Homo sapiens: one gene and its partners. The protein of the gene in region 2 purifies or fractionates together with the protein of the main gene of each other region. This does not show direct contact. Each region holds a gene or a part of one and is shown on either strand. Other genes may lie near its edges. The genes, in order: LORICRIN, B3GALNT1, SELENBP1 and CST1.

Region 1 (8,913 bases), on a different chromosome or scaffold from region 2:
TGTAAAATGATGCATGGTAGTGATCCTAAATGGAAGAGTTGAGGAGGAAGACTTTTTTTCCCCCCAGCAGTGATTGAGTAGGAAGGGTACTTTGGCTTTTTGACGTAGCAGGAGTTTTTCTTGAGTAAATCAGTAAATTGGCATTTAACTAGAGCTGGTAAAATCAGGATATGAAACAGAACCTGGAAAGTCCCTGGCCAGGCTGATGTTCTACATCTCTTTTGAGGGCTCTGCAATTAATACATCCCTTGGAGCAACTGTCGCTTCTTCCTTGTTAATTGGAAGCTCTTGTGTTTTCCATGACCTCTTTCTGGTGCCAAGCTTTTACATCTCGTATATGTATGCTGCATCTTCCTAAGTTAGGTAAAGTTCCTTCAAGAGAGCAGGAAACATTCAACCCGAGAAAGCTGATTGAAATTAAAAAAAAAAAAACGAGAGAGAGAGTGAGAGAGCAGGAAACAGCTCCCCTACTACCTCCTCTCCCTACGGGTACCTACTAAAGTGGTCTTGCTCACCCTAGGGGCCCGTAAACATCTGATATGCTTTTTATTTCTCCGTGAGTCTGAGTAGCATGAGCTGGTGCTCCTAATGTGCAGCCACCCAGCTTTCAGACCTTGCAGAATTGGCTTTGGACTGTGAGAGACAGCGTCTTTCCAGGGCAGCCTGTCTTTAAAAAACAGAGTTCAGTAAGGAGACCCACAGTAGCTACTCAATCCACAGGGAGGTGTTTACTGAAGTCTCTCCTCAGGATCTTTGTGTTTTGGGATCACGTCATGATTTTAAGCCGTACACTAGAATGTTCATATGTTTGACCTTCGTTTGCCAGCCATTCCTCCCTCTCCTGGTGACTCCCATCTATCCACTCACCTTTCCGCCAATAGAGTCCGTGCATTTGTAAAATGAATGTAAGTGTGAATGAGCGAATGCAGGAAAGGAGAAGAATGGAATGGAATGGATGAACTTGAACACTACAAATACTCTTGGAGACCTAAAAATTCTCATGAATTTGCAAATTTATTGACTGAGGCACTGGGGTTGGGAGGTAGTTGTACAGAAACCAAAGAGGCTAAACAGCAGAACTAGATGCAGCCGGAGAGCTCAATGGCTTCTTCCAGGTAGGTTAAGACATGAAGGATTTGCAAACCTCGGGTAGCATCATGAGAGCTCTAAGCCCATCGGTGCCCCTGGAAAACACCTCCAACTCCTTCGCCTCCGTGGTACCCTGGGGGATCTATTTGGACGGCCAGGTAGGCGCCTGCTTCTGCTGGGTCTGGTGGCAGATCGGGACGCCCTTGCCACTCCCGGAGCCACCCACGGAGGAGCCGCCGCCGCCGCCTCCAGAGGAACCACCTCCGCAGACGGAGCCCCCGCCACTGATGATGCAGCCGCTGCCAATCCCGGAGGAGCCGCCGCCGCAGCCGGAGCTCCCGCCGCCCCCGCCGCTGGAGAAGCAGCCGCTTCCGCCGCTGCCGCCGCCGCCGGACGACCCCCCTCCGTAACTCGGCTGGGGCGCGCACGAGGTCTGAGTGACCTGCTGCGAGGAGACGTAGCCGGAGCCGCTGCCGCCAGAGGAGCCTCCGCCGCAGCCAGAGCCGCCGCCAGAGTAGCCGCAGACAGAGCCGCCGCCCCCGCCGCTGGAGAAGCAGCCGGAGCCGCCCCCGGAGGAGCCGCCGCTAGAGACGCCTCCGTAGCTCTGGCACTGGACCGCCTGGCCCGAGAAGCCGCCGCCGCCGGAGGAGAAGCAGCCGGAGCCGCCCCCGGAGGAGCCGCCCCCACCGCTGGAGAAGCAGCCGGAGCCGCCCCCGGAGGAGCCGCCGCCACCGGAGGAGAAGCAGCCGGAGCCGCCCCCACCGCTGGAGAAACAGCCAGAGCCCCCGCCGGAGGAGCCGCCGCCTCCGGAGTACTTGACGCTCCCACCGGAGCCCCCTCCGCAGCCTCCAATGCCGCCCCCGCCCCCGCCGCCGGAGGAGCCCCCGCCGCAGCCGCCGCCAGAGTAGCCACCGCCGCCGGAGTAGCCGCAGCCAGAACCGCTGCTACCGCCCCCTGAGCCGCCGCCGCCGAAGAAGCCGCAGCCACCACCGCCGCTGCCGCCGCCACCGCCACCGCCGCCAGAGGTCTTCACGCAGTCCACTGGGGGCTGAGGGGTGGGCTGCTTTTTCTGATAAGACATCTTGTCTGAGAAGGAAGGAGAGCCTGGAAGGGGAGAAGAGAGCATCGCTGGACCAGCTGCAAGAGGATACTTACGGAGGCAGCTGCATCCATAGGCAACATCGCCATCCTCCCAGGGCTCCTTCAGGTGCCCGGAGAGCCCTCAGCGGGGTTTCTTATGATTGCTGCTTTTGGAAAAGTTGAGTTCCTCATTCCCCTGCAGAAAGCCTTCATTATGCTTTAAACAGCCCAGTTAGCAGTGCCCATTCTTTCTCCCAGCTCTGCCTCTGACCACTGTTGTGTGATTTGAGGGCAGATCACCCACACGCCCGCCTCTTTCTCATTTCCTGTTAAATGAAAGGGTTTGAACACTTCATCTTTCAGGCCTCTTCCAATCTCAACACTGATTCTCTGAGTGCAAATAGAAAACTACCACAAACCTCTACCTAGGATAGGAGATTTTACCCATTCCCAGCACAACAGAGAGAGGTTTGTCGGACTTCATTCTATTGAGGGCTGTTGCACTCCATCCTCTGCAGAAGCTCTTAGTTCAAACTCTTGGTCTGTCCCACTGAGCTAGGCCATGAACCAAGGGCTAGTCACTAGAAAAGACAGGCTCTGCTGTGGCCCTGCCTGGAAACAGGGGAAGGACCCTGGTGGTCCTTTGGACCAACATCCCCGACCAGAAGCTATTAGCCATCTCTTCCATGATTTTCTCAAGTCCAAGTTTGGTAGAAGGGACTTTGACTAGTAGGAAGTTGTATTTCCCTCTCAGAACTTCTAACTCTGTAAAACAGCAATTGGATTTCTGTGGCACCTGAAATCCCTCCCATCTGCAACTTTTTTGGATCATTCTCCCTACTCTCTTGAGAGTGGCTCAGCCTCTCCTCCTGACAGGTTCACAAGGTCTGCTCAGCCTGTGCACAGGCTGCCTTGGACAGCCTCTGCAGAGTCCTTCTGTGCCCGGCACCATGCCTGCCCCTATGCGGGTGCCAGAGAGGCAGGAGATAGTCTTGTCTTTGTGGAGTTTACATTCTGGCCAGAAGACCAGAAACACCATCTGCATGGCAGCAGCTCATCCCCTGCTCCTTTCCTGACCGCCCTCTAAATGTGAGTGCTTTTGGGAAGGCAGAGGTCCTATAGCTCCCAAAGGGGAAAGAGGCCCTGGTCCATCTAATCTAGTCAGGCCTGGGCAAGACCAGCTGGGAAAATGAGAGAGTCAGTAGAACCACACTTACCCAAAGCACCAGGAAGGGTGAGTGAGGAGAGAAGATGCTGGCAATGTGAGGAGCACTGATCTCCTGAGGTTATATATAGAGCTCTCCCTGACTCATTGATCCAGGCCAGCTTCTTGTGTTTGGCCTCAGTTACGTGACCCGTGGCTGTCGGCCCCACCTCCCTGTGATTGCAGGCACAGGATGGCCCATTCATGAAGGTTTTGGCATTCTTGAGATGGGCAGCCTGGTGTGTGACTGGCCCCTTCTCTGATGCAACAGTGTGGCAGGCTCATCAGTGGGGTCACCCAGTCAGAGTGGATGGCAGACATTGTTTCCAAAACCTCTGGCACAGGATGCATACCAGGTGACCACAGGGCTGTGCTTGAGGAATAGGTCCCAGAGTCTTGAGGTGCCCTAAGAGAGTCAAACTGAAGATCTCAGTGCTTTATCCAAGGAGTAGGACCTTCTAAATCCTACTGTTTGACTTCTGGTCCTGCTACTCTAAAAATCCTCAAAACTTTAGAACCCGTTACTCCTTTGCAAAAGTTTATCTCCCAGGATTTCATGTGTGTTTTGCTGGGGTGTTTCTGTCCTGCCCACTGGAGGCATGAGTCCCCAGCACCCAGCTCTGGACTGCACACCATAGACAGTGCTGTAACTAATGTGACGTGGGAAGCTACTTTGATTCATCCCCAGAGACAGCAGGCATTTGAGACAGTCTGAGAAGGGTAATCAATACTGACTTTCCTTGCAGCAGAGCAAACTAAAGAGATGGACCATGTGATCCCACAAAGGCTCTTTGGCTCTGTTGTCCTGTGGTGTTGTGTGGCAAAACACTGACCTTAGCCTGAGGGGCAGTCATTGAATGGGATAGACTTGAGATTAGGTGACAGATTGGGTGCTCCCTTTGCTACTTGCCAGCTGTGTCACCTTGGGCAGAGTCATAGCTCTTAGTGCAGTACCTGCACATGGGAGGCACTCAGTAAGTACTTATTGACTGTGGAATGATCAAGCTTTTTGACCCTCAGTTACCTTGTCTATCAAATAAAAATAGTAGTACCTATTTCACAGGCATGTGAAGGGAGAATAGTTATGTTAAGTGTAGAAGGTGATGCTGTCTTTTTTGTTGTTTTCTCATATAACAGCACATCCTTACTTCCAACCTGGCCTTCCCTTGGATACCAAGGCCAGAAAGGAGTCCATGGAGGGATTGGGCAAGTCCAATTCTTCTCCTAGGAGAATAACTCAAAACTTTCTTGTTGACTCTGGACCAGTAGCATCACCTCTGCGCATGCAGAACAGGATGCTGCTTCTTTCATAACCGGAAGTCAATTGGTATTGTTTAAGATACCACAGTCAAACTTTGTTCTGCCCAGTTATGTTTTGAAATGACAGCTCCAATAATAAATTCTTAATTATAGTGCACTTTTAATGATCCAGATGATCCTGATTAGACTGTGGCCATCAGAAACTTGTGGCACTAGTTTCAGTTTGGACAGCATAAACCCAGGTGAACCCAAGAGGAACTCAGGTGCTCTCCTCCTTAGAGGAGACCCAGTAGGGAGAAGACAGGATCTGTTGGAGAAGGCAAGTTTCTCTGCTTGAAGTTGAGGCAGTGTGGAGAATTTGGAGGGAAACAGGCCGCGATTAGTGATTGCTGTGGGTATAAGAAAGAACAGTTTTATTTAGCTGGGCCACATTGGAAAGAGGAGCACGTGTGGACGACGGTTCCCAGTACTGATATGTGTGGTCCCTTGTTGGCCCATTGCTATGTGTTCACCAGTCCTTAGCAAAAGTGTAAGTAAAAGGACGTCAGCAGGGTATTCTTGGGAAAGAAAGTCTTCAATTCTGAAATCATGGCCTTCCTACCTCTTCCTTTAAAAGATGTGGTGACATGAGGCTGTAGTTGTTTCTTTTATGTCCTGCCATGTCAAAATGAAAATTTGGCTATGGTGTAATGATTACCACTTTTTTCTGAGGGAGATATTACTTCTCCATGGAATTCTAAAATTTGGGAACTAGGCCGGGCACAGTGGCTCATGCCTGTAATTCTAGCACTTTGGGAGGCCAAGGTGAGAGGATTGCTTGAGCCCAGGAGTTTGAGACCAGCCTGCACAACATGGCAAGACCCTGTCTCTACAAAAAATACAAAAATTAACGAGGTGTGGTGCCATGCGCCTGTAGTGCCATCTACTCTGGAGGCTGAGGTGGGAGAATCGCTTGGGCCCAAGAGTTTGAGACCAGCCTGGGTAACATAGTGAGACCTCATCTCTACAAAAAAATAAACAAAATTAATTGGGCATGGTGGCATGTGCCCGTAGTCCCAGCTACTCAGGAGGCTGTGATGGGAGGATCGCTTCTGCCTGGGAGGTCAAGGCTGCAGTGCGCCAAGATTGCACCATTGCCCTCCAGCCTGGGTGACAGAGTGAGACCCTGTCTCAAAAAATAAACAAAACGGGAACCTAAAGTACAGTTGACCCAAAATGACTAATCTTCAAATTGTCCATGTTGGCTTTGGGGGGTTCATTTTCTTCTAAGAAATATAGGGTTTTTTTTTCTATTAATTTTAAGATGCTAATTCTTTATTTGTTAATCCAGCCAAAACAAATGTACTGGGCACCATGTTAAGCATCAAAGAGCCAGAAGGCTTTCCAAAGCTATGCATGGGTCTTTTTGGTAGAGTCGCGGGTGGGGATGGTGCCCCATGCCTGCCTCTGCCACCCTATATAGCATTTAATAAGAAAGGATATACATATTTAACTATATATAGTTTTACATACATACATAACTGTATATAGTTTTACATACATACATAACTGTATATAGTTTTACATACATACATAACTGTATATAGTTTTACATACATACATAACTGTATATAGTTTTACATACATACATAACTGTATATAGTTTTACATACATACATAACTGTATATAGTTTTACATACATACATAACTGTATATAGTTTTACATACATACATAACTGTATATAGTTTTATATACATATGTGACTATAGTTTTATATACATATATGACTATATATAGTTTTATATACATATATGACTATATATAGTTTTATATACATATATGACTATATATAGTCATATATGTATATATAACTATGTCACATCAGCCTCTTCTGCATGTTAACTAAATATGTGTACTAGTTACAAGTTATATATATATAGAGTTACATATATATAGAGATATATCTGTAGAGATATATATATATATATATAACTTGTAACTAGTATAAATATTTCGTTAACATGCAGAAGAGGTTGATGTGACATGATACTGAGTACCAGATCTTGTGGCTTTCAGCCCTGAGTTAACCTTGCCTGATATACGAATATATGAACCTGGTTTCTCATTTCATCTTTCTGGAGCAGAAGCAGTAGTCCTAATGGGATATCTGTGTGGGCAGCAACTGATTATCACCTTTTATCATATCAGTGAGGAAATAATGGGACTTTGTAGAATTGTAGAATGACACATAGGTATTTGGGGTTTTGTAAGACTTGGCAGTTCAGATTTTTAAGGTTTATAGCCTTTAGACACCTAACCCTGCAAGGTGTGCTTGATAGCACATTTGACTTCTGCAGTTTGACAGATTAGGACATGGTTCTTGCCTATACTTGTATCCTTAGAGGGGATGGTCCTTAAAGCAGATGCTACACAGTGCCTGGCATGGTGCTGGGCATTAATAGGTGCTCAGTAAATCCCAGTGGAATTGAAGGAACTCTTGAGACCTATTGACTGACTGCGGTTGAGAGATGATCTTGTCAGATGATGAGGAGTGGAGGGTTTCAGCATGGAACTACAGATTAAACCTAGCCACTGTGCAGAATGAACAAGCCTTGTGCAGGGGATCCAAGGCCAGCTATAGAAGTGACACTGGGCTAACACTGGGCTAGTGGAATTTTAGCCTGCTTCCCTGACCACCCTCACAATATCTATCTGATGGGAAGGCCCCGTATAGGAAGTGTGTGTGTGTGTGTGTGTGTGTGTGTGTGTGTGTGTGTGAAGGGTGGTGATTCTTCAGAAAGATGTGGCAGTCTAGGGTGTTAAGGACACATTGGGGCTTATCCACAATCACAGATGCATCCTTTGGAGACAACCCAGCTTCTGATTCATAAATCACAAAAAAGTTGGAGATTTGTTCTTTCTGCATCTCAGCTTAGCTTATCTTTGTGGGAAGCTCACATCTTCCTGCTACAGGCATCTTCAGAGCAAGAGAGAAGCAGGTAGAGGAGACAGTGTGAGGGCCTCCCGCATTGTGATGCACAGCTTGGCCATCTTAACAAGCTATGTTGGGGGGATTTAGGAAAGAGCAGCTGCAAACTACTCTGAGAAGGCTGCTTCTCTGAGTAGAGGCACCTGGCTCCTGGGCCCCAGTCTGAGATTTCATTTCTTGAGCTTGGTGAGCCCCAGTTGGATGGAAGCATGCTCATCACAACCTTGAAGTATCCAGAGCTACACACATGGGTTCTCATGACTGAGTGCTGACTACTTATCTAACAGGTTAAAGGGGCAGCAGGTGGCTGTAAAGAATAAAATGAACACAGGACAGGGGCTTGGGAGCTTTGGCAGGACAGGAGTAGTGCTTGGAAGCCCTTTGTACTGTTGACTTGGAATGGGAACAGTTTTCTCTCACAGTCCTGGCCCAGGAAGTGTCACAGAACTCCAGGTACCTCCTGGGCTGCCATTTTCCTCCTTTCTACTGCCCTTCTGGGCCAACAGTTTGAAGGGGTGGCTGATCCTCGGTGTTACATGGGGAGAACTGCTTAGAGGTGGGTAGGAGAAGGAGAGCTCTGCAGTGGTTCGTGGCTACTGGTGTTCCCTCTCCAGGAAGCTTCCCTGGATTCATCACACCCACTGGTTCCATCTCCCTCACCACTTTCCCTTTCCAAGGCCTTAAGGAACAATTGTACTAGTTACGGTCTGCTAATGACACATCGCTTTGACTTGTTTCTTTTTTCAAGTTATAATTGTCCTTGAAGGAAGGCTCCCTATTAGTTCTTAACTCTGCATCTTAGGATTTAAAGAGCACTTATAGCCCCCTGGGGTGTTATCAGGCAGTGTTGACTCTTACTTGGTCCTCTTTTGGGTGCTCCTGGAGCCCATCATTTTGCTGAGGGTGGGGACCACAGATGAGTTGTTCAGACCTTTTCAAACAGCTTATAGATGCACACAGGGTTAGCAGTGCATCCAGGGATCATGCTTGCCTGGGCTTGGACACTTCCTCTGTGGACAGACTCTTCAGTTTATGGACCACTGTCACATAGGTTCAATCCTCCTAACAGTTTTGTGTGCCCAGTAATGTTATCTTCAGTTCAGGATGAGGAAGCAGCTTAGAGTGGTTAATGGATTTGCCCAAATTCTCACAGCCTTTAAGTAGAAAAGCCAGGATTCTCAGTTCGTTTGATTCTAAACTGTGTGTTCTTTTCAAGCACCGCGTACCTCTCCTCTTTGGATCAATAGGAACCAAATGAAGGAATGACTCCCCAGCCAGGCTGGTTTGTGTCCTCTGGGAGGCAGGGAGCA
Region 2 (7,000 bases):
CTTCCATAAAGTATATGAATGTGCTTTGGTTAAGGAATAGGCTAAGGCGAATATCTGGGCCAAAGTGACTTAGCAAGTTTAGGGCACAGGTGCATACTTCACTTGTTAGATAACCTGTCTTTGTAAGTTTATACTTGGCTTTGAGTTGCTATTGTTTGTAAAAGGTATAACTGCCCTGCTGATGCTGCCCATGGGGTTTGGGTTGGCTTGACATGGCTTGGAGGTGCACTAATGCCCAGAGAGAGTAATGCTACTGACCCCTGTAAGGAAGAGTGGATTGCCTTGAAGGCGGGAAGTGGGGACTTATGCCCAGAGGGAAAAAATTAAGCTGCTAACCCTGGTAGTATAGGCCAGGGAGTGCAGCTGCAAGGCTGGGGGCAGCAGGAGCAGGCTCATAAGAGGAGCCACAAAGCTGAAGCAAACAGCCAAGATAAAGAAACTGTGAGAAACAGTTAGTGTGAGGAAGCTGCTGATTAAAAAGCTGCTGAATAAAACTACATTTCACCTGCCTAAAGCCCCCCGAGTGTTCTTTCAGCAATTCGCCCATCCACCCACTCCCCTCGGACCTCAACTGGGACTCAAACCTAACACCTTGTTGGACCTCAGCTGGGACTTAAACCTAACACCTTCTCAGCATTTAACCCTGTCTAGACTTTTAAAAATCTATTTCTATTTGTTTATTGTCTATTCCCTTCAAAAGAATATAAGATTGGAGAGAGGGAAAACCTGACCCCACTTATTCACTGCTATATGTCCAGTGTCTAACACATAGTAGGCTCTCTGTAATATTTGCATACTTTGCAAATGATTTGGTAATGTACTTTTATCCACTTAGTAAATATTCCTAAGAATAAGCTGAATCCAAAAGTAACCTGAATTTGTTGATTATGTTTTTCTTCAGCTGTCTTCTAATAACAAAACCTTATTGTAATAGGCTATGCTGATTCTGATCATGTGCATTTTAAAAGGTCCAAAAAAACAAGAAACAAATTTCAGTTAAATTTTAGGTCCAAGCACGCTAGAGTCAGGATCATCCATATGCTAACTATTATAGATAATTACCAAACTACTGTCAGTTTTGCAACATTCTAACTTTTCTTCTACATAAAATACTGCAAAGGGAGTGGAAATCTTAATTGCCTAAAAAAAGGTCCTGTGCATATTAAGTTTAATTCAAATCATCATTACACCAATCATGTATATTCCTTATAAAGGGAAAATAACTATCAATTCACATCTTTGAGGGAAATTCCCCCACTACCCTTTCAAACTAAACACATTAACTCATAAAGCAATATAAAACTCTACCATTCAATTAGACTTGTCAATTAAACATCTAATTATTTTCACAACTCACTGCTGCTTTGTGTTTGAGGCCCTCCCCTGATTATATTAGAAATAAACACAACCAGTGCCATCTGACCACTACTTTTTCTTCCCCTCTTCTTTAACCCAGTGGTTCTCACTTTGCGGCACATTATAATCTCCTGGAGAACTTGAAAAATACTGGAAGCCAAGCGGGATCCCAGGCCAACTAAATCAGAGTTTCAGAGGGTGGCAGGGCTCAGGTGGCAGTAATTTTAGTATACGTGCTGCCAAAGCGAGCACCAGGTGGCAGTATTTTTAAAGCTCCCAGGTGATTTGAATGTGATGCCTAGACCCTCACCACTCAAAGTGCATGGGCACCACCTAGGAGTGTATTAGGAATACAAAGCCCCAGGCCCCACCCTAGACCTAGTGAATCAGAAACATTTTTAACAGGTGGCTTGTGGACATACTGAAGTTTGAGAAGCAATGAAATCCACTTGAGCAAATTACTCAACCTTTTTAAGCTTCAGTTACCTTATCTGTAAAATGGGAGCAATAATACCTTCTTTGCGGGTTTATTGCCAGAGCTACATGAAATAATACGCGCTAAACATCTAGGATGGGGCTGGCACACAGTAAGGGCTAAGTAGATGGTATTGCTGTTATTATTAGAGTCCACACTATATGCTTCCTCTACATATATTATTTGTCTACATTTCCTTTACAAACCTTGCTCCTAACTCCCAAATGTGTCTTACATGGCATGACATGCTCTGTAATACAATTAAACATGCAAATAAATCTTAGTGGATCCACCTTCTCCTTCCAAATCAGTAAGTCTTCTCCTAGAGTCCAAGGTTTCTGTTTTCCTAGAATCTCCCAGTGCCTGATGTTCTGCTATCCTGCAAATACGAGCCCCAAAGAACTACTGGTAGAGGTCCACAAAGCCAAACGCACATTTCTGGGTTCCGCCTCTGCACATGTGCTCCCCTCTCCTGGGATCCTTCTTTCTGCCCCATGGTCTTTCTACAACTGAACATCATTTTTTCTGGGAACCACTCACACTGTCAAAAGTCTCACCATAGGCACTTGTAGCAGCTGGAGGAGAGCTGCAAAATACAAGAAATTTTTCCAGCTGTAGTGCGTGTGATATTCAAGTGGTGTCAGGCTACTTTGAGGATTGTGCATATTTGATATGGTTTACATTTTTCTCCTTACTTTGGAGCATACAGCTGGACATATAATAGGAAGTGAAATTTTATTTACTGAATGAATGAATAGCAATTGGTATATCTGCTTAATTTGATAACACTTAAAAATGAAATATGCTTTACTCTGTCAGGGTAAATAGGCTCACATTAAAAAGAACCTGCTTTCTACTCTATCCAATTTCTTCATACTCCCCTCTCTCCAAAATTTTAGCAATAGTCCTTGCTTGGTCCTGGCACTGTAGTAAGTATGTTTTATATTTCCATTCGTTTGATGACTGCCGCAATCTTATGAAGTAGGCACCAATATTATAACATTTATCTTTCAGTTAACCAGCTTGAAATTTGGACACCTGTTCAGGAGTCAGGGTGTCAGAGCCTGCAAAGCAGCACTAAAAACTCAGGTATATTCACCACCCCAAGTGGAGTCTGTAGCCACTGCACTACAAAAGCTTCCCTCCTGCCTTGTTTTATCCTATTGGCCTGGTATCTTCATACTTTCACAGTGCAGCACCTCTGTTCTTCTTCAGAGGTGAAGAGTTGTCAGAGCTCAACGAGAAACTTTTGGCCGGGCATGGTGGCTCATGCCTGTAATCCCAGCACTTTGGGAGGCCAAGGCTGGCAGACTGCTTGAGGTCAGGAGTTCAAGAGCAGCCTGGCAACATGGTGAAACCTCATCTCTACTAAAAACACAAAAATTAGCCAGGCATACTGGTGCATGCCTGTAATGCCAGCTATTCGAGTGGCTAAACCAGGAACTTTAAAGAAAGGGAAGTTTAGTCCAATTTCCATGCAAATCATGCTCACCCAGTTTTCAACAAGTCCTCTCCAACAAGTTCACTTTTTGGCAATGGAGAAATTCCTGAAGGGACTAATGTTAATGCATCTGTATTCCAAATAACCCTGAATAAGTTGCTGAGACTCTGTAAACATTAGTGAACACTTATGACACAAACACAATGACCATCAGGAGCTAGAAGAGATTCACTGAGAATGCTCTGTTTGACTATCCTAAGCCCCATTTTCAATAGGGTTCTTCAATAGAAGATCAAGGTAACTCGCAGGTAACACCTAAGAATCAAGCTTCTCTGTAAAGAGAGCTGGACACTTAAAGTCCTTCTGAACAAAATGGGAAAATGTGAGTAATAATAGTAGCTAGATGGCTTAAAAATTGGCTGATCCATCATAGCCAGTGTATTTTTCATGCAGTCATTTGTTCAAGAAACATTTCTTGGGCTTGTGCTGGACTCTGGGAATAGTGTTCCACAAAAGTGCCAGAGACTTGTCCTCCTGCTGATGTTCTAAGGTTGACTGGAGCATCTTTGTCAAACTGGGGAAAAAAATCACAGGCCTATCTTTAGCCTTTTCTCATTTCATATTTCTAATTAAAGAACGTGGGCTTATTCAATTTTGTAGGCAGGAAAAAAAATGACAAATTCATTAAAAGATGTAATTACAATCCAAAAGGTTTTAACAGGTGAGAAAAAGCTAAAGACAGCAAGATGAAATTTGATGGGAACACATTTATTGTCCTATGTCAGAGTTCGAAAAACCAGCTGCACAAGGGCAGGATGGGGGGCCATTTTAACAGCAGCCTAAACAGACCTTACAGTTTAGCTGAGTATGAGTCCAATATGATAAAAGGTGGTGAAGTAAAGGAATAACTGGGCAGTCAGGAAACAAGGATTCTAGTTCTGGCAGGGAGGCCAAGTCATTGAATTTGAGGAGTTATTTCTCAACAGAATTTTAGGACATTGGGCTAGGATACCTCTCAGGCACCATCTGGCCCTACCAGCAGAGGGATGATGTTCATTCTTGCACACTGTGTCCCCAGCACCTAGCATAGTGCCTGGCACATAGGAAGCACTCCCAAGTACTTGTGAATGAATGGCAGTGCTAACAGAAACTCTACAAGTGAATACTAGATTGTGTCCCCCTTCTCTAACACACACACACACACACACACCCCTAATACACTCCTAGGTTCAAGAAACTGGAAAAGCATCTGGGCAAAGGGGGTCATAATTCCATAGCCCCATATGAGTTCCATTTTGAAAGGGTCACTAACAAGTTAGAAGAGGGTAACTCATTTGGTGAAGGGTTTATCATCTCCCATAAGGATTGCATGACATGTGGCTGAAGGATCTGGGGATGTTCTGTTCTGGAGACAAGAAAAGCTTAGAAGTGCCATGGTAGATACTTTCAAATTATTTTGAATAATAAAATATGTAAGTATCACTCCAGAAGGCAAATGAGAAACCAAAGATAGTGTTATTCTAACAAACGTCGAAGGTCCCTTCTAACTACAAGGTTCCACAACTTTGTTATTGATGTTTAAAATGTAGTTCATAGAAAAGGTTTCATTTTGGCATATTTTAAATTGTTCAATTTTTAAGAATGAATTTGAAGTATTTACTGAGTTTAAGAAAAAAGCCCACCTCGAGCACCACTCTCTGTAGTTGTCACACAGTTTTAGGTAGACAGTGAGTATAAATACCTATACTCATTACCATTTCCCAATTCTGCCCTTGAAACTCTGCTGGTTGTAGCACCACCACCCTCAGGTATCTTCTAAGATGTATGGGAGAATGTCTTTCATTAAAGCTTCATTAAAAGGGAAGCCTGCTGCTTCATTCAGTGTGCTGAGGTATAAGACATCTGAGTTTTTAAAGACACATGTAAGTAAGACATATTATATATACTGTTATACAAACTACTTTCTTGTAGGCAAAACAATCCCTGTATATGGGAATCTCTGATAGACTTCTGGGTTGTGGCATGCAGAATCTTTTAGGGATTTCTGGGTTTGGGCTGAGAAAAATGAGGAGCAAACAAAAGCAGCAGGACTTTAGAAGGAAAATTTAGCCGCAATTTTCTTTTTGCTTCTGCCCTATCTGCATATTCCAATAAGAACATAAAAATCACTCTTAATAATTTGCAATACATGTTAGGATTTTTAGCAGGGCTGTTTTTTTTTTTAAAGGCATAGTGAACTTCTGGGCACTATACAAGTTTATAGTGCTTCTAACTACAAATTACAAAGCACATTTCATGACACTGTAAAATCTGTGTTAACATCAATCCCATTTTCCAGGGAACAGTGCAGCCCAGGTAGAGGAAGACATGGAATCCAAACTCAAGCCCTTCAACTCCAAATGCCAAGCTCCTTCTGCCAGGGCACAGTGCCCCAGGAGAGACCAACCTCACATCTAATCTCACAGCCTCCTGAGATTCCTGGGCAGGGAGCAAAGAATGCAGCAGAAGCAGACACACCTTTACACTCGGGGTGAGTAGTCGGAGAGCACCACGTGATAGAGCAGCCAGCGGGAAGAGCCAACAGGTCAACCGGGTCCAGGGAGCTAAGAAAACTGGAGCAGAGCAAAGATCACAAAGTCAGGCAGAACAGCAGCAAGACTGCCCTGAAAGCTGGGCTTTCTGTGTCTGTTTTGTTACAAAGAGCTTTATCCACTGGAGGAAGAGTATCGGGGAGCTGCTGCAGTTAACATTTCTTCCCATTACTACCCTAAATTGAGAATATTACAGCTCTTTACTATTCTTCTTAGTTAAGCCATCAATTACCTTTGCTTTAGTCATCTGAGGGTATTTCATTCCTTCATTCAGTGTTCTGGACCTGTGTTAGAGGTTGGGGCAGCAGTGGGGAAGCAGACAGACAAGCCCTGTCCTCAAGTTGCCGACACTCAATGCAGAGCGTGGTGGAAGACTCACAACGACACATTTCACACCAAACATCATGAGTGAGGCCCACCTAGAGAACATGGGGGAGGCTTTCCAGCTCAAATGTTTCTAAACTAGTGACCAAAATCCACAGCAGGGAACTGAGTTTGCACTCTCAGAATGTGTTAGTGCCCAATAGAGGCATAAATTTAGAGCCTGTTATCAGTATGGAGAAGGGAACTATTTAATACTAAGAGATAAAACTGGACGGTAATTTTTTATCTTAGAAAGTGCGTAACTCCATTCTCAACGACAAAGTCTGTAACCAAAATAGCAGCCAAATACAATTCCAGATATGAGATATGGTTTGAGCCCTATGACATGCTGCAGGAATAGGTGGCTGCAGGCTTGTGAAATGTTTTAACAGGAGGACTTGTGTATTCTAACTTTTATGAGACTATTCAAAATGCACAGCTTGAGTTTAGCAGAAATCCATGTTCTATCCCAGAAGCGGGCAAACTTTTTTCCCCATAAAAGGCAGATAGTAAATATCTTCTTTGAGGGCCCTAGGGTCTGTCTCAGCTACTCCATTCTGCTTTTGCATAGAAAGTGGTAACTCCATTCTTGAAAACAAACTCTGGAAACAAAATAGCTAAATATAGTTCCAGATAACAGACACAGAAAGAGAAGCAACAGACAATGAGATCCTACCTACCTACCTGTGTTCAGAGTCAGAAATACATGGGGTGGGAAACCGATAACCTACTCTAGCTTTCTTTTAGTTCCTTAATGTCTCAGAGATTCAAGGA
Region 3 (7,983 bases), on a different chromosome or scaffold from region 2:
AGCAGCTGCTGCAGGTGTTCCATCCTGAGTGATGCAGCTCGTCCTTCAGGTTGGGCATGGGCAGCCGGTGGATGACCTAGGATGCGGGGAGAGGTGGTGCTCCCCCAGGCCACGCCTCTGTCCACTTTTGGAAGAGGCGCCCTGTGGACTCATTTTGGTTTGGAAGCACGGCACAGGCTGGATTTCAGCACTCCCCTTGTCCCAGGTTGAGCGTGCACAAGCATCCCCAGGGAGGGCCAAGAAGGATGGAGCTGGGAAGGGGGGGCCCAGGGCCAGGGATGAGGGCAGCTATGGTCTCAAAGTAGCTGGCGCCCAAGCCCCGCCTAACCTGGCAATACTGGGGAGACTTGGGGTCAACATCCACAGTGGCCAGATAATCTGGGGCCTCAGTGCCTGTGTTTCGGTAAATGCAGGGCAGGTAGACGATCTCTTCCCTGGGTCCTGCACGGTAGAAAGCAGGCAGCAGGGACGGCAGGGTGGGAAGGAAAGGTAGGGGAAGTGCTGGGTGTGCCAGAGGGTGGGGGCTAGGTCTGAAGTCCCTCCACCCCCAGCTGTGGAATCAGTAGTAGGGCGCTGGCTCTCAGACCATGGGCAATTACCTTTCATGGCCTCCAGAGGGGTGGAGTAGCCGGGTCCACAATTCCCACATTTCGTAGCTGTGGAAGCAATGGGGCGCATTGGCTGGGCCACGCTCTGGAGGGTGAAGGCTCCCTCCGCACGTTCTGCAGCACACATCCCAGCGGGCCACGGCAGTGCGGCTGGCCTAGGTCCCCACTCCAGCCTCATCGCTCTGGCCTGTCCTCTCCGCCCCCTCAGAGCCCTGAGGAGGGTGAGGTTGTGCTGGGAAGAGCTGGAGACACATGACCTGAAGGTGGACAGACAGTCCAGCAGGGCCCCGGGAGGGTGGGAGGAGGGCTGATGCAGCCGGGGTCGTGTGGTGTAGTGAATATGACACGGACTCGGGGCCCAACCCCAGCCCACCACTGACTAGCCAGGGGAGCTTGGGCAAAGTACTGAAGCTCCTCGACCTCAATTTCTGCATCCTCTGTAAAATGGAGATGGTAAGAATTTCACAGTGGGCTTTTACGAGAAGTAAACACGAGGGTGCAGTAGGTGTGCAGCTCTGTGTTTGTCTGGTCGAAGCCCAGGCACCCTTGGCTGTTCTTGAGGAGCTGCTCTCAGGGAGTGGGGTGGCGCCTGCTCAGCTCCCTTCACCAAGATGCTTCTATATCAGGGGGAGGCCACTTCCTGCTTTTCTCTCCCCTGGGTCCTGATCCCAGGCTGCTAGCCAAGGGCTGGATTACATAACCGAGGGTCTGGGGCTAATACCAACTGGAAGTCCTCAGGCTGGTTTCTACCCCTGGGTGTGCCCCACTTCCTTTATCTGTAAAGTAAGGTGTTTGGCCCAACTCTGGAGAGCCCAGAGGCCTGCCCACCAGAGAGATAGGGAGCAACCCTCCCTATCTCTGAAGTCTGGCAAGAGGGGCCATGCTAATCTCCAGGATGTAAGTCAGCAGATGTGCAGTAGGGCTGGGACATCACAGCTACCAGCACCCCAGCATCAGAGTTTGGGGCCTGCTGGGGAGCAGGGGTTAAAGAATACCCAGAGGGGGTGGCAGGCTGAAAGAAACCCTGGAGTGGAGTCCACAGGCCTGGGCCCTGTCTCCTGCCTTGTCCTGTGGCCAGTCCAGCCTCTGCCTTCACAGCTGGGCCGCAAGTGGGGAGCCAGGAGTAGGCAGAGTGGGGCCTCCACTGGGGCCTGGGACTCCCACTCGCAGCAGCCAAGAGACTTAGGAAGCTGAGAGGCAGCAACAGCGTTCAGAGTCTGGAAACCTGGTTTCAAGTCCCAGTTTTGACGCCCCGTTTCTCCATTTTCTCCTCTTCATTTACGAAAAGTGGGCAATAATGATATTCTACCTACTTTGCTAGGTAGATATGGAGGACAAATAAGACAATGTATTCCAAAGGCCTTTCATAAAAATGAATTAGGCCGGGTGCGGTGGCTCATGCCTGTAATCCCAGCACTTTGGGAGGCTGAGGCGGAAAGATCACCTAAGGTCAGGAGTTTGAGACCAGCCTCACTAACATGGCAAAACCCTGTCTCTATTAAAAATACAAAAATTACCCTGTATTAAAAATTAGCCTGTATTAAAAAATACAGGCATACACCTGTAATCCCAGCTACTTGGGAGGCTGAGGCAGGAGAATCACTTGAACCTGGGAGGTGGAGGCTGCAGTAAGCCGAAATCACGCCACTGCAGTCACTCCAGCCTGGGCAACAAGAGTGAAATTCTGACTAAAAAAAAAAAAAAATAATGAATTACTGTGTAAATATGGGAAGGGCTGTGCCAGAGGAGAGGAGAATGCCAGGGAGTGCTCGATGCCCAGCGAGAGGGCTGGAGGTGGGGCAGGGAGAGAGAGAGAGGTCCAGTTCACAGGAGTTAAGGAGACTGGTTCTGTTACACAATCTTGCTAAGTCGGGGCTTGGCACCAGATGACAGGGGGTGGGGAAGGAGGTTGCTGGATACAGAAGGGAAAGGAGATTTTAAAACTCCAAGACCTCAAGACAGAGATACAAAAAATACAAAGCTAGGGAGAAGCTGAGAGGGAAGTAAAAGTGCAGAGATGGAGCTGCCCGCTCTGCAGCCTCGGCCCACCCCACACCCCAGCAACCCCAGCCCCAGCATTTCTTAGGGTCAGGCCTGGCATGCCACTGCAGCCCCAGGGAGCATCATTCCTCTTTCTGGGGAATACCCCCATCTGAAACATCTCAAGCAAGGTCTCGGAGCAGCTTTGGGTTTGGGATGGACTCATGGAAAGCTCAAGTGGGTTTTCCATGTCAGGCTGGCTGCTGGGCATTCTGCCAGCTCGGCATTCTGCCAGCTCAAGAGCCAGCCCCGAGCGGGGAAGGACCTCCCAACCAAACCTCAGTTCCTTCTTAGCCTGTCACCCAGAAGCCTACAGATGGAGGAATAGCAGGGCCAAGGGGGATTTAGGGGTGGGGGAGGCATTGAAACAGGTCCCCAGTGAAAGAGTGTGGGGGTCTCTGATTTCCCTCCCAGAGAGCTTTGCTGTGTGGAGTAGCTAGAGAGTGACCTGGGCACAGAAAGGCTTTGGACTCCCTACCTCGCTGGAGTACAAAGTTGGCCCATGGCTGAAATCAGGATCACCTCTCTACTATGTGAGGGCCAGGGACCTAGTGGTGTTTTCTAAGAGCGCCCATCTGATTTTCCCAGCTGCAGAAAGGCACCCTGGTCCCAGCCTCTGCTGGATGGAGCCAAGTCAGGGCCCAGGATCCCATCTCCCAGCAGTGCCTCTGCCCGTCTTCCTCAGAAAGTTTGGCTGAGCTGGGAAATGCAGTGGGGTGGTGGGGGAGGGGGTGTGCAGACTGGGGACAATGAAGCAGAGTCCACTACTCCCTCCCCAGCTCCCCACTCAGGTTTTCTAGCATTTTCTGGAGGAGGGCCTTCCAAATTAGGGGCAGACAGAGCAGGCAATGGGTGATTGGAAACCCCTCTCCTTACCCATGCTGCCGACTGGTACACTTTGATCCCGGCGGGTTTGCTGTGCTGGTGTCAGAGGCCGCTGTTCCGGGGAAGGAGCGAAGGGAGGGAATTTATACAACCAGCTGGGGGTGGGGCAGAGAAGGAGGAGGGCCCGGGCTGTAGCCCAGAGTAAACTACTCAGGGCAGCTGGCCAGGATACTCTCAAGTGGCCTAGGGCAACTGGTGTTTGAATTATGGGGTGTGCGTGTATGTGTTTAAGTGTGTATGTGTGGGAGCCTGTGCTTTATTTATTTATTTATTTATTTAGAGACAGGGTCTCACTCTTGCCCAGGCTGGAGTGCAGTGGTGCGATCTCGGCTCACTGCAACCTCTGCCTCCTGGGTTCAAGTGATTCTCCTGCCTCATCCTCCCGAGTAGCTGGGATTACAGGCACCCACCACCATGCCCAGCAATTTTGTATTTTTAGTAGAGAAGGGATTTCACCATGTTGGCCAGGCTGGTCTCAAACTCCTGACCTCAGGTGATCCACCCGTGTCGGCCTCCCAAAGTGCTGGGATCACAGGTGTGAGCCGCTGCCCCTGACCAGCTCGTGCTCTTTAGTGGGTGCCTGGGTGTGTGTGGATTTGTGTGTCTGGGCATGTGTGTGTTCCTGTATACCTGCGTGTTGCTCGTGCACGTGCCTGCATGAGTGTGTATCTGTGCCTGTGTGTGAATTTCCACGTGTGTGAATGTGCCTGTGAGTGTGCTTGTGTGTATTTGTGCGTGTGTGTGTGTGCGCGCCTCTGTATGTGCCTACCAGAGTATCTACGCCTGTGTGTGTGTGTGTGTGTGTGTGCGCGCCTCTGTGAGTATGTGCTTGCTAGAGTATCTACGCCTGTGTGGACATGTGCATAAGTGCTTGTGTATGTGTAGTGTGTGGCTATGTGGCTGTGCATGTGCTTGTGTAAGCCTGCGCACGTATGTGTTCCTGTGTCTCCAAATGCTCGTCTTTGTATTTGGACCTGTCTCTTAGCATTTAGGGGCACCCGGGACTGTGGGCCCATCAGCCAGGGTCACTTCTTCCCTAAGATTGCCCTCTTATTCCAGATATTCATACTCTTTGGATAAAAGCTCTGGGGTGAAGTTTTTATTGGCTAGGAAAAAGAATAAAGTCTGGGCTTGAGATTGCAAGTAGAATACAGGGTTTCCAAACCAGAGTGGGGGAAGGGGAGCAAAATTGGGCCTTGGTGCATTGGGTATCTGTCTTCCTGGCTCCCATCAGTGAGGGATCATGTGCCCATCAAGGAAGACTCCCTGTGGCTGCCCGGGGCAAGGGTCTTCTCTTATCCCCAGCGCCACTCAACCCCTCTTGGCTCCATCCTGCATCTATTATCCTCACCATTGTGCCATCAGCCTGCCAGGCATCAAAGAGAGTCTTGTGTGTGCAGCTGCCCCACGGGGAAGGCCCTGAAGGCTGCTTCCTTGTCTTTGCCAGCTTCCTCCTGTCCTGACTACCTCCACTCACCCTGCCTTCACCCTTCCCTCTGGCCCTCCCCTCTTCCTCCTCCTGAGGTCTCCATCTCCTGCCTCCTCTCTATTCTCCGGCTTCTTGGCTTGGGTTAGTCCACCACCCAAGATCTGAAAGAGAAAGAAACTTTATCCCCACCTTCTCATAAAAAATTATTGAGTCATTAACTTAAAAAAAAAAAGGCTGTTATTTTGTTTGTTGTGGTCTGTCATTGACTACCTCTTTCATGCTCCTGAGCTCTGACCTGGCTGGTCTCTGCAGCAACTCCATGGCACCCCTCACCTCTGCCTGTGGTTTTCTCCCTGAACTCTTGCTCTACAGCCAGCAGGTGGTTGGGGAAGTTATCCTAATCTGGGCTACAGAGGGAGGCAGTAAAGGTAGAGGGGCGATTCTCCTGCCTCAGCCTCCCGAGTAGCTGGGACTACAGGTGCCCACAACCATACCTGGCTCATTTTTGTATTTTTAGTAGAGACGGGGTTTCACCATGTTGGACAGGCTGGTCTCGAACTCCTGACCTCAAGTGATCCACCCACCTCCGCCTCCCAAAGTGCTGGGATTACAGGCCTGAGACACCGTGCCTGGCTGACCTGGATAATTTTTAAATTTTTTTTGTAGAGATGGGGGGTCTCACTATGTTGCCCAGACTGGTCTCAGACTCTTGGGCTCAAGTGATCTGCCTTGGTCTCCCAAAGTTAATTTTGGATTTTTAAAAAAATAATAAGTACTGCTTTTGTAACTAAAAGCTCAAATAAATATATTAAAAGAAAAACTATAAGGAAGATGAAAGGAAGGATGGAAGGTCACATGCAGTGCAGGTGAGGGCCACAGTGAGGGCCCATGCTGGGGAGAAGGACTGGCCCCGGTCCCTTTTGAGCTACAGCTCTCCCAACCAGCTGCCTATCCTTCCCTCTGGAGCACCTCTTTTGAGCCAGATATGGTAGACAAAGTGGTGAACAGGGCAAAGTTGCTACCTTCATGGAGATGACTTTTTAGGGGAGATGACTGATAATCATGCAAATACACAAATAAATAAAATCACTTCAGATAAGTGCTGTGAAGGAGTAGGGTAATGTAGGGGTGATGCAGCATTAGGTGGGGTTGCTTGGTATGTATGGGTACAGAATTATATGCAAACAAACAGTACAAAAGAACTAAAACAAACAAACCAAAAAGCACAAACGTGCACAAAATGCCTGTAAGGCATAAAGGTAGCAGCCCATGGAGGTCTGAGGCAGGACTGGCTGGAGAGGTTGGAGTTTTCACCAGCTAAGTAGAGTTTCAGAGCCCTGTTCTGCTCATTTCTCCTTATATTAACAGACCAACTCCATACCCTCAGGGATGTGTAGGAGATGTGAAGGGAGTAGCGTTTACTGAGAACCTGCTACTAGAGGTGACGGGCGCCATGCCGGGCCCTACACACTAACAATTAGCTCAGGTTCCGCCCATGGCACAGCTGGAGAGGTTAAATGCCTTTTTCTTTTTCTTTCTTTTCTTTTTTTTTTTTTGAGACAGAGTCTCCCTCTGTCGCCAGGCTGGAGTGCAGTGGCGTGATCTCTGTTCACTGCAACCTCCGCCTCCCAGGTTCCAGTGATTCTCCTGCCTCAGCCTCCTGAGTAGCTGGGACTACAGGCGCATGCTACCACGCCCAGCTAATTTTTGTACTTTTTAATAGAGATGGGGTTTCACCATATGGCCAGGCTGGTCTCAAACTCCTGACCTTGTGATCTACCCGCATTGGCCTCCCAAAGTGCTGGGATTACAGGTGTGAGCCACCGTGTCTGGCCTGTAAATGCCTTTTTCTTCATCTTACATTCAGGAAACAGAGTTTTCCCAATTCACTCCGTTGCCCACACTTAATGCACTGTTTCTGAATGACAGTGAGTTCAAAGCCTGCTGCTCAGGGTAATAACATGGCTCAGAGAAGAGAAATAATTTTTTTTTTTGAGACGGAACGTCACTCTGTCACCCAGGCTGGAGTGCAGTGGCAAGGTCTTGGCTCACTGCATGTTCCATGTCCTAGGTTCACGCCATCCTCATGCCTCAGCCTCTCGAGTAGCTGGGACTACAGGTGCCTGCCACCACGCCTGGCTAATTTTTCATATTTTTAGTAGAGACGGGGTTTCACCGTGTTAGCCAGGATGGTCTCTATCTCCTGACCTCGTGATCTGCCTGCCTCGGCCTCCCAAAGTGCTGGGATTACAGGCGTGAGCCACCGCGCCCGGCTGAAATAATTTTTTTTAATGCCCTCTGCCAGGGCTGTCTATAAAAAGCATGATTTGAGAACCACTTGGAGGACTTTCTCCTCACTGCCAATCCACTCAGAAATATCCTCCCTTTGGCCTGCCATTGATGCTTGAAACTTCACCAATAGCAGTTTATTTCTTTGTGTTACTACCAGATGGCCTCTTCTCACCTCCTGGCTACAGTGAATGTCTCTGGAGTGGTAACCCTTTAAGCTCCTAGTACTGCAGCGCCACTCAGTTTTATCAGAAGCCTGTGTCCCAGTGGGCAGCACTGAAGAGTGGCTGGGGGCCTATCATATCCAGGGAGATGCTAAGGTTGGGGACAGAAGGTGTTTAAAAAGCAAATGTTATCGTCTTGACTCCTTACCTCTATTGCTTAAAGAGAAGGAAGAATAAACAGTGAGGTGGCTCACACTTGTAATTCTAGCACTTTGGGAGGCTGAGGCAGGTGGATCCCTTGAGCTCAGGAGTTCAAGACCAGCCTGGGCAACATAGTGAAACACTTTCTCTACAAAAATTACAAAAATGAGCCAGGTGTGGTGGTGTGCACCTGCAGTCCCAGCTACTCGGGAGGCTAAGGAGGAGGATCACTTGAGCCTGGGAGGTGGAAGCTGCAGCAAGCTGTGATCATGCCACTGCACTCCAGCCTGGGCGACAGAGGAGGCTCCATCTAAAAAAAAAAAAAAAAAAATTATAAGCCATTTTGTTTCAGTTATGCCTCCTAGCC
Region 4 (8,344 bases), on a different chromosome or scaffold from region 2:
CCCCTGATGGCCTTGCTGTGGCTGCGTCAGCTCCCAGGTACTCCTGTGATCTCCACACCAGCAGGACAAGGAGGCTTCATAAAGGAACTGCAGAAACCCCGCCTGCGTGCACATCCCCAGACAGCCAAGAACTCAGAGGGAGGCGATGCTACTGTTTAATTGCAGGAGGTGGGGGGGTGTGTACCATGTACCAGGGCTATTAGAAGCAAGAAGGAAGGAGGGAGGGCAGAGCGCCCTGCTGAGCAACAAAGGACTCCTGCAGCCTTCTCTGTCTGTCTCTTGGCGCAGGCACATGGGGAGGCCTCCCGCAGGGTGGGGGCCACCAGTCCAGGGGTGGGAGCACTACAGGGGGTGGGAGTGGGTGGTGGCTGGTGCGAATGGCCTGGCACAGATCCCTAGGATTCTTGACACCTGGATTTCACCAGGGACCTTCTGTTCTCCCAGGGAACTTCGTAGATCTCGAAAGAGCACAACTGTTTCTGTGAAAGGGAAGAGAGAGGGCCAATCAGTGTGGGTTACAGTTAAAGGGGAAGATGCCCAGGCATGAGATGTCAGAGCCTGGGTGAGGAGGATGGAGGTGAGACACTGGGCCCTCACCCACCCCTACTGAGTCCCAGAGTGCTGAACTAGAATGAATAGTGACTGTTCCATTGCCCCTCCCAAGGCTCCAAGTCACCAGGTGGCATTGGGACCCCACCCCAGCCTGCAGTGTCCTGTCCCAGCACAGCCCTGTGAGGAGTAGCCTGGGCAAGGCCTCGGGAGCCCCAAGGGTGCAGGGCATGGGGAGGCAGCTCAGTTCCCCCAGCTCCTTCCACCTCCAGCACCCAGGCCAGCACTAAGAGGGGCCAGAGGGAAGAACCCAGGGCAGGGCAACTCCCCCTCAAAGAGCTGGGGCATGGGGCAAGGGCAACAAGGGGAGTGTGGCTCTCCCCTGAGTGGAGACCTCACAAGAACCAGCAGGTCCTTGGAGAGGCTGGTGTTGGGTGAGCCGGGCAGGTCCAGGGCTTCCCAGCTAACAGGCCTCTAGGTCCCACTAATCTGATCACTGTGGCTGTGGCTGCATGCAGGTGCCTGAGGCTGGGATTAGACAGAGCCCCTTCTCCCTGCCCAGCACACAGCCGCACAGCTGCTTCTTCCTGTCCAACAGGCAACACTCCAAAGCAGGCAGAATTGACCTTATAGTAACCATTCCCAACCTAAAGCCTTCCTAGCAAATCAAACACATCACCCTCCTCCCTCACCACCCCATCTGCACATACATGGACAACTACGTAAACTCACTTGGACCCCTCATCCCCATGGATCTATGTACAAAGCCCCATACACCCCCCACACATCCATGCACAGGCACACATGCTCCCATCCACCTCCCTGCACACACTGGCACAGGTGTGTACACACGTGCACCTTTCCACATGCACACCTACATGCACACCCCCCCATAAGTACATGAACACGTACACATCCATGCATACACGGCTCCCCACATACCCACCTGCACACACACACCCTCCAAACATGTGTAGGGCAGAGGCTGACACATACGCACCCCTCTGCAGTGCATGACTGGCCCGGGACCTGCATCAGGAACGTACCTTCTGCAGTTCTGGCTGTTCATGGAAGGCACAGGTGTCCAAGTTGGGCTGGGACTTGGTACATATGGTGCGGCCCACCTCTACGTCGAAGAAGTAATTCACCCCCCCAACGGTCTGCACACAGGAGAAAACAGGACAGCGCCCCCATCAGTTCATGCACTCACAGGCACTTCACTGTGGCTGAGTCACTGGACTTGCTTGGGGGCTTCGTGAGCTGCCCACATGTCAACACAAGGCACACAAGCCCCCTCTTCCTGTCAACTGGCAGGGTGCTGAGCCTCATACCCGCTCTTAAACATTGCTTTCTCTGTGCTGGGTAAAAGGATTCATTGAATTCTGCTGTCTGTGGCTCAGGGGCGAGGGAACACTGACTCTTTTCTAGGAAGTCTGTCTGATGACAAAATTTCACCTAACTTCTGAAAATCTTATTCCCTCCATTTAACATAGATTTATTACTTCACTCAGAGTAGGAAATGAGATGCTTCACACACACAGATATTTTGGATCAATGGGGCCGCCCGGATGCCACCATTTCAAGTGTGAGATTCAAGATACATTTCTCAAGTCAGCAGCACACCTGCGTGTCTTACAGTTGCAGATTAGAATTGAACCCTTTCCCTGCATAGGGCCTTTCCCAGACACAATGTGGCAGAGCTGTGGAGAAACCTGGGATGAGGGACTCTCTGGAACCAGGAGGAACTGCTGAGATCCCTCGAGTGTCAGTTTACCCATGTCTAAAATAGGCTTCTGGGCCTGATGGTCTGCAATGCCCTGTGCTTCACTCCAAGTTACTGTCATGCTTGAAAGGGAGATGCAGGCCAGCGGGGACCACGGCACCAGGGAGTGTATCTCGTATGCAGGGAGAGAGCCCCAGCTGACAGCTGCAAGAGGAGAAACGGGGCTGGTGGGGATTCCTTTGAATTTCCAGGAGAAGGTGGAGGAGCTCTAAAGACTGTGTCACTATTTGCTGCTGTGCCATGGGATGCAGGTCAAGCTGGGCCCAGTTGCCCTGCTGAAGCTCCCTCCCGACCTGACCCCTCCTCTGCTCTGCTGGGTGACCACTGTCCTCATCTGGCTGAGGTCTAACTGCATCAGCTGGTAGAGGCAGGGTCAGGCATGCTCCACCCCAGCAGGGACTCAGCGCCCTGGGCTGTAGGGGTTTGTCAGCCGGCCTGAGGGTGAAGGCCGCTAGCCATAAGGGGCTGTGCCCAGGGGCGTGACTTGGGGAAGCAGGGCTCTGCAGAACAGTGAGCCAGGTTCCTGTGTGGCCCCTGCAGAGAGGACTCAGGGAGGAGTATGAACCTCATGGCCTGGATCTCATCCTGAGCAGCATCAAGCCCACCCAGAGTAAGCACAGTCTCCATCCACACCTGCTGGACCCTGGGAAATGCCACAGTCATGGTACAGACACAGTGGCTGCTGCAGGTTAAAGGAAGCTGAGTTTGTGCACGGCCGGGGAGCGTGCTTAGGCATGAAGGGCATCAGCGGAGAGCCAGGGAAAGCTGAATGAATCTGAGCATTAGATCATGAATGTATCAGTGTTGATTTGCTGGGAATGCTCTTGGGGGTTGGGGAACAAACCAGGCTGGGACCCAGGACCCCTGGGGTGGAGGGAGCACCTACCTGTTGCCTGGCTCTTAGTACCCGCAGCGGACGTCTGTAGTAGTCATCTTTGGTGGCCTTGTTATACTCGCTGATGGCGAAGTGAAGGGCACGCTGTACCCACTCATCATTGAGGTCTGCGTTATAGATGCCACCCGGGATTATCCTATCCTCCTCCTTGGGGCTCCAGGCCAGGGCCACAGCTAGGGTGGCCAGCAGGAGCAGCAGGGTACTCAGATACTGGGCCATGGTCTCCTCAGAGGCAGAGCACAAAGCTGGAGCTGCAGGAGAGGAGGGTGAGAGCCCGAGGCAGGGAGCCCAGACCAGCAGGCAGGTGTGCATTTATCCTGCTTTGGCAGCCCAGCCCCACCCACCTCCATGCCCCACCCCTGACTCCTCCTCCTCTTTCTTCCCATCCCCTCTTTCTCCATCTCTCTTTTCACTCCCCCGCTACTACAAGCTCCCTCCCTGCCTAAGTTCCCCCTGCCCCTCCCAGGCCTCCTCCTCCATCTCCCCCTCCTCCCCACTCCAGTCCTCACTGCAGCCTCCCCGAGCCATGCCTCTCTTCCCCAGTGCTCCCAAGCTTGAGTCACCCAGGTCTCCACAGAGGTGACACTGGTCCTTTGACTGTGAAAGCTATGTGACTTCCTGTTTGCTCAGAAAGGGGAAAAATACAGGGCTTGGCCTCCCAGGGTCTTCAGATATCAGGGGCATCCAGGAGCACTTGGTCACAGTCTCTGAATCTCTGGAACAGGGAGATTATTTCAGAAAGTTCCAGAAGACCCTGTCCATACCCTAATGTGGAGAATTTCTTTGCCAAATTTAAGGGAATTAACCTTTTTGGAAAAGGTCACTGGATTCTCTTTTCATAATTCATTATTCAATAAGCAAACCTATCACCAGCTACTCCCCGTGCCAGGAGGTCTAGGGCTTGAAGACGGAACCTGGATGATGAGCCATAGAGGTGACATTGCAGAGCTGCTGCCCAACAGACATGTGACACGAACTCACGAGCAATTGAAAATTTCTAGTAGATGCATTTTAAAAGATGAGAATAAATGGGTGAAAGTAATGTTTAAAATATTTATTTAACCTTATATAGCCACAATGTGATTTCAGCTAATGGGAACAATTATTAATGAGATCGTTTATGTTTTTTTTTTTTTTGTTTTTTTTTTTTTTGGTTTTGTAAATCTTTGAAATTCCCTGTGTATTTTTAACACTTAGACCAGAAGTAATTTTGGACTGGCCCCATTTCAAGTATCCTGTGGCACATGTGGCTGGTTCTATGGAACTCCATAGTCCATTCCTACACAATGTGTGTAGGGGATGGTAGGTTACGATCAAAAATTAGGGTCAGGGAGTTATGCTCACTCTTTTGGAAGTGAAATAGAACAGGGGCTAGAGAGAGACCACTGGACCCTGGTCAGGGTGGTCTCTATGAGACTGGAGAGGTTGAGAAGCCCCAGGCAGTGGGGAACAGCCAGTGCAAAGGCCCTGAGGTGGGGTTGGGACATGCCTGCTCCAGAAAGTGGAAGCTCCTGGAGGGGGTATGAGGAGGGAAGGGAACGACCTGGAGTCTCACAGTAAATGTGGGTGGGGCCCGGTGGAAGGTGCACGGAGACCCCTGTGAGGCAGTGGGGGTGTCAGGAAAGGGAGCAGCAGCCACGGGATGAATGTGGGAACCCACAGGTCTCTCTTGCTTCTGTCCTAGGCAGCCATGCTTCAGGCTCCTTTCCTCTGTTCACTGCTTGGAAGACTCACCTGATATTTTAAAAATTGCCTTAAATGAGGTAGAATTTGCATACAATAAAATGCCTAATAGTATGTGCTCAATCTGGGGTGTTTCATAAATGCATACACTTGTGTTACCACTTTATCCAGACCTGTGACATCTGCCTTGCCCCAGACAGTATCTTCCTGCCTTTCCAGCCACCCTCGTGCCCACCCCACCTTGGCAGTCCCCATCCGGCCCCATAGACTCCTTGGTCGCCTGTCCTTGAGCTTCCCAGGAATGGAGTCCTGCAGAGCGAGCCCATGTGTGTCTTTGTCCTTTGCCCAGTGTGGCTTTCCGGCGGCCCCCGAGTTGCTTCATTGCCAGGATTGTGAGTTCTCCTTCTCCGCAGACTGAGAGGATTTGGTCAGTTGGGTGTCCTATGGGCTGACAAAGCCCCCAGCTCGGGATGCTGTGGGCCTGGGCTGGAATGTGACTCCAGGAGAGGAGAGGGTGGAAGGAGGCTCTGAACAGACAGCTGCTCCCTTTGTTCTCTCAACCCCACCCTCCATGCCTGAAGGTGACCCTGTGGCAAATGCCCTTATGGGGAGGTGGCAGGCTTGGCCAGAAGCTACAGGAAACCCTGGACCTTAGCAGGACACCCAGAGGACTCTCCCAGGAGTGGTGGAGGTGAGCGTTGGCCAGTGTCAGCCCAGACCTGTTTAGAACACTAAACAATACTATAATAAACAAATGACCAAGTGCAGAAACCATCACATAAAGGTGCAAGTGATGAGGACAAGCTGGCCAAGAGTCATCCTGGGCTGGGACATGGCTGGGGCTGGATCAGCAGGAACCCGGCATTGGGAACCATATTACTCATGGGTGCTCATGTTCAGTATTAGTACAGGGAACCTTGTTACCTGAGGCCTGGTGACCATCTCACCCCACTGTGAATCCAGCACCCCTAGAATAGCCGTGCAGCCCGGCAGATACAGCAGGTGTACCGAAGGTGTTTACTGCTGGGTGAAGGAGGGAAGGTCTTCAAACAAAGCTGCACATATGCCTCCTAGTTAGACAGGAAATGGGGAGAGATTTCCAAAGAAGGGAAAGAGAAGGAAGTCCCTTACCAGGTGTTTGGGAGCAGAATGGTCATCTCCAAAGGGTAGGAGTTAGTTCTCCTCTGTGGCTCCCACCTTCCTGGGACAGCTGGGAGTCCAGGCTCAGGAAGACATGCTGTGCAGAGGGTAAACTGAAGGTCAAGCAATCCTCTTGTTTTTTTGTTTGTTTTTGTTTGTTTGTTTTGTTTTGTTTTAATCATTGGAAAGGAGATGCAGGTAACCCAAATAGCGAGAATGTGCTGGTGGGTGGAGTATGAGGGAGGGAGGCCAGAGTGCTGACCTGTGCCCTGTATGTGATGACACCACCAGTGGTCATCTTCTGTCTGGGCACTGGCATGCACTGCAGGGAGGGTCAGCTGTTCTGATGCAGCAAGCTCTCTAATCCCAGTAGGAAAAATACCAGTGTACATTGCTCTTAGGAGGAGGTACAAGTGCGATGTCCAGTATGGAGTGATAGGAAGTAGCAGGTTGAGGTAGCTGGCCAGCTGCTCCAGATGTTTGATGACCTTAGGCAAATGGTGTGTCTGTCATGCATCTGGAGAAAGAGGCTACTTTCTAAAGCATAGTATCTGGGAGTTAAGACCAGCAGAGATGAGCAGACTTCAGCAGTGATGTATCAACATGGTTAAAAATGATGGAGTAGCCAGGTGTGGTACTGCACCTGTAATCCTAGCTTATTAGGAGAGTGAGTCAGGAAGATTCCTTGAGTCTAGAAGTTCAGTTTCAGCCTGTGCAACACAGTGAAACACCCATCTAAAAAAAATGGCAGAACACTTTGTTCCCTGATTTCTATAGTCCACAGTTTTAAGGACACACTAGAAGAGGGCCAGATAGCAACCATGGACTGAGGAACAAGCTTGGGGCCTCCAGCACCCATGTAACCTAGAGGAGTCCAGCTGCCCAGGAGGGGGCATGTTTTCCTTCTGCTAGGTGACAAAAGAGAAAGCTGTGTTCCCCTAGGCTGCACAGGTGAACTGATCTGATTATCTGAATTAGTAGGATGAGAAATTAGGTGAGTGGCAGAAGTTCTCTGCAATAAATGACCAATAATAAGTGAACACTAAACAATACCATAATAAATGACCAAGCGCAGAAAGCATCATGTAAAAGTGCAAGTGGTGAGGACAAGCTGGCCAAGAGTTGAGATTCTGCACAACTGGGTTTTGAGCAACTAACAGTTTGGTCTATGGTAGGAGCTGGGACTGAACAGCCACAGGATTTGGTGGCTTCTCAAATGGGAAGCCCAGGAGCCTCCTTTATGGAGTGCCTGGAATTCTCTGGGGTCAAGCTCATCTCTTTCACACTCCATCCTTCCTTCTTTTCTCCCTCTCCTCACACATCGTGGACACGTGGATGCTTCTAAATTATGGGCCCATGTTGGTAACACATTTGGCTCTGTTAGGACATGTGGATGCTTCTAAACTATGGGCCCATGTTGGTACCACATTTGGCTTTTCCACATCATTAGGAAACTGATACTCATGGGGAAGCCTGCTGGCAGCCCCGGCTGGGAAAGGCAAGAGAGGGCAGAGCCCAGTGTCAGGTCTGATTGTTTTGCACTCCGTGGGGAGAAAGAGAATCCTTTCTCTCAGGGACCAGCACATGAATGGTATTCCTGGCTCTGGAGTACAAGTTAACATTTATTTTTCAAAAATCAAAAAGAGCATTTGTCAGTGCAGATTCACTGACTGAAGAACCACATATGAATGGAGGGGAGTAGGGGCGGCCTCCGGAACTCGGGCTGCTGGCTGCTGCAGCCAGGGATCCATCTGACTCCCTGGGCTACAGCCTGCAGAGGCCTGGCCATGAGGAAAACAGATGACTCTGAGGAGGTGAGTCATCTCCTTGACATCTCTGGGTGGTCAGACTTTCTTATCCTGTTTGGGTCACTGCTGGGACTTCCCTGTCACTGTTTGTGTAACCTTAAATATCAATTCCTTTAGCAAAATGCAGTGACTGTGGAGATTGGTTCCTCTTCCTGCTTGGAATCCTGTTCAACTCAATCACTGAGTGTTGGAGCTGGAGCCAGAGGCCATCAGGACAGCCCTGCTCCCTCCTGTGGCCCTGCCTGCCCTTTCCTCCTGTCACAGAAGAGCTGGATCCAGTGACAAGACTCACCTTGACCAAACCCTTGTTAGGCTCCTCTGAGCCTTCCTCTGCCCTGGTCCTCAACCCTAGTCCCCAGCCCTGGACCTCCTGTTCTTGCGAGGGCTTCATGGCCCAGTTTTAGGAAAGAATCCTGCTAAGTCAGTTTAGAAAGGCTCCCCCCCACCCTTGGTATCTGATCACCCTCAACATCTGACCAAGTTCTT

The links.
Region 1: the proteins of B3GALNT1 (region 2) and LORICRIN purify together in Homo sapiens (affinity purification with mass spectrometry; 3 studies listed by BioGRID and IntAct, with this or other methods). This does not show direct contact.
Region 3: the proteins of B3GALNT1 (region 2) and SELENBP1 purify together in Homo sapiens (affinity purification with mass spectrometry; 3 studies listed by BioGRID and IntAct, with this or other methods). This does not show direct contact.
Region 4: the proteins of B3GALNT1 (region 2) and CST1 purify together in Homo sapiens (affinity purification with mass spectrometry; 3 studies listed by BioGRID and IntAct, with this or other methods). This does not show direct contact.

What each region holds. Positions count from the first base shown.
Region 1 is NC_000001.11:153,254,207-153,263,119, reverse strand, and holds LORICRIN (loricrin), read right to left. Parts: upstream 3,434-8,913; 5' UTR 3,387-3,433; intron 2,194-3,386; 5' UTR 2,171-2,193; coding exon 1,232-2,170; 3' UTR 996-1,231; downstream 1-995.
Region 2 is NC_000003.12:161,095,350-161,102,349, forward strand, and holds part of B3GALNT1 (UDP-GalNAc:beta-1,3-N-acetylgalactosaminyltransferase 1), read right to left. Parts: intron 6,283-7,000; exon of another isoform or gene 6,096-6,282; intron 5,885-6,095; coding exon of another isoform or gene 5,790-5,884; intron 1-5,789. UniProt on the Homo sapiens protein: Transfers N-acetylgalactosamine onto globotriaosylceramide. Plays a critical role in preimplantation stage embryonic development.
Region 3 is NC_000001.11:151,369,114-151,377,096, forward strand, and holds the start of SELENBP1 (methanethiol oxidase), read right to left. Parts: upstream 3,593-7,983; 5' UTR 3,529-3,592; coding exon 3,525-3,528; intron 866-3,524; exon of another isoform or gene 787-865; coding exon of another isoform or gene 657-786; coding exon 600-656; intron 442-599; coding exon 329-441; intron 77-328; coding exon 1-76. UniProt on the Homo sapiens protein: Catalyzes the oxidation of methanethiol, an organosulfur compound known to be produced in substantial amounts by gut bacteria. Selenium-binding protein which may be involved in the sensing of reactive xenobiotics in the cytoplasm.
Region 4 is NC_000020.11:23,747,421-23,755,764, forward strand, and holds CST1 (cystatin-SN precursor), read right to left. Parts: upstream 3,516-8,344; 5' UTR 3,447-3,515; coding exon 3,219-3,446; intron 1,710-3,218; coding exon 1,596-1,709; intron 480-1,595; coding exon 396-479; 3' UTR 142-395; downstream 1-141. UniProt on the Homo sapiens protein: Human saliva appears to contain several cysteine proteinase inhibitors that are immunologically related to cystatin S but that differ in their specificity due to amino acid sequence differences.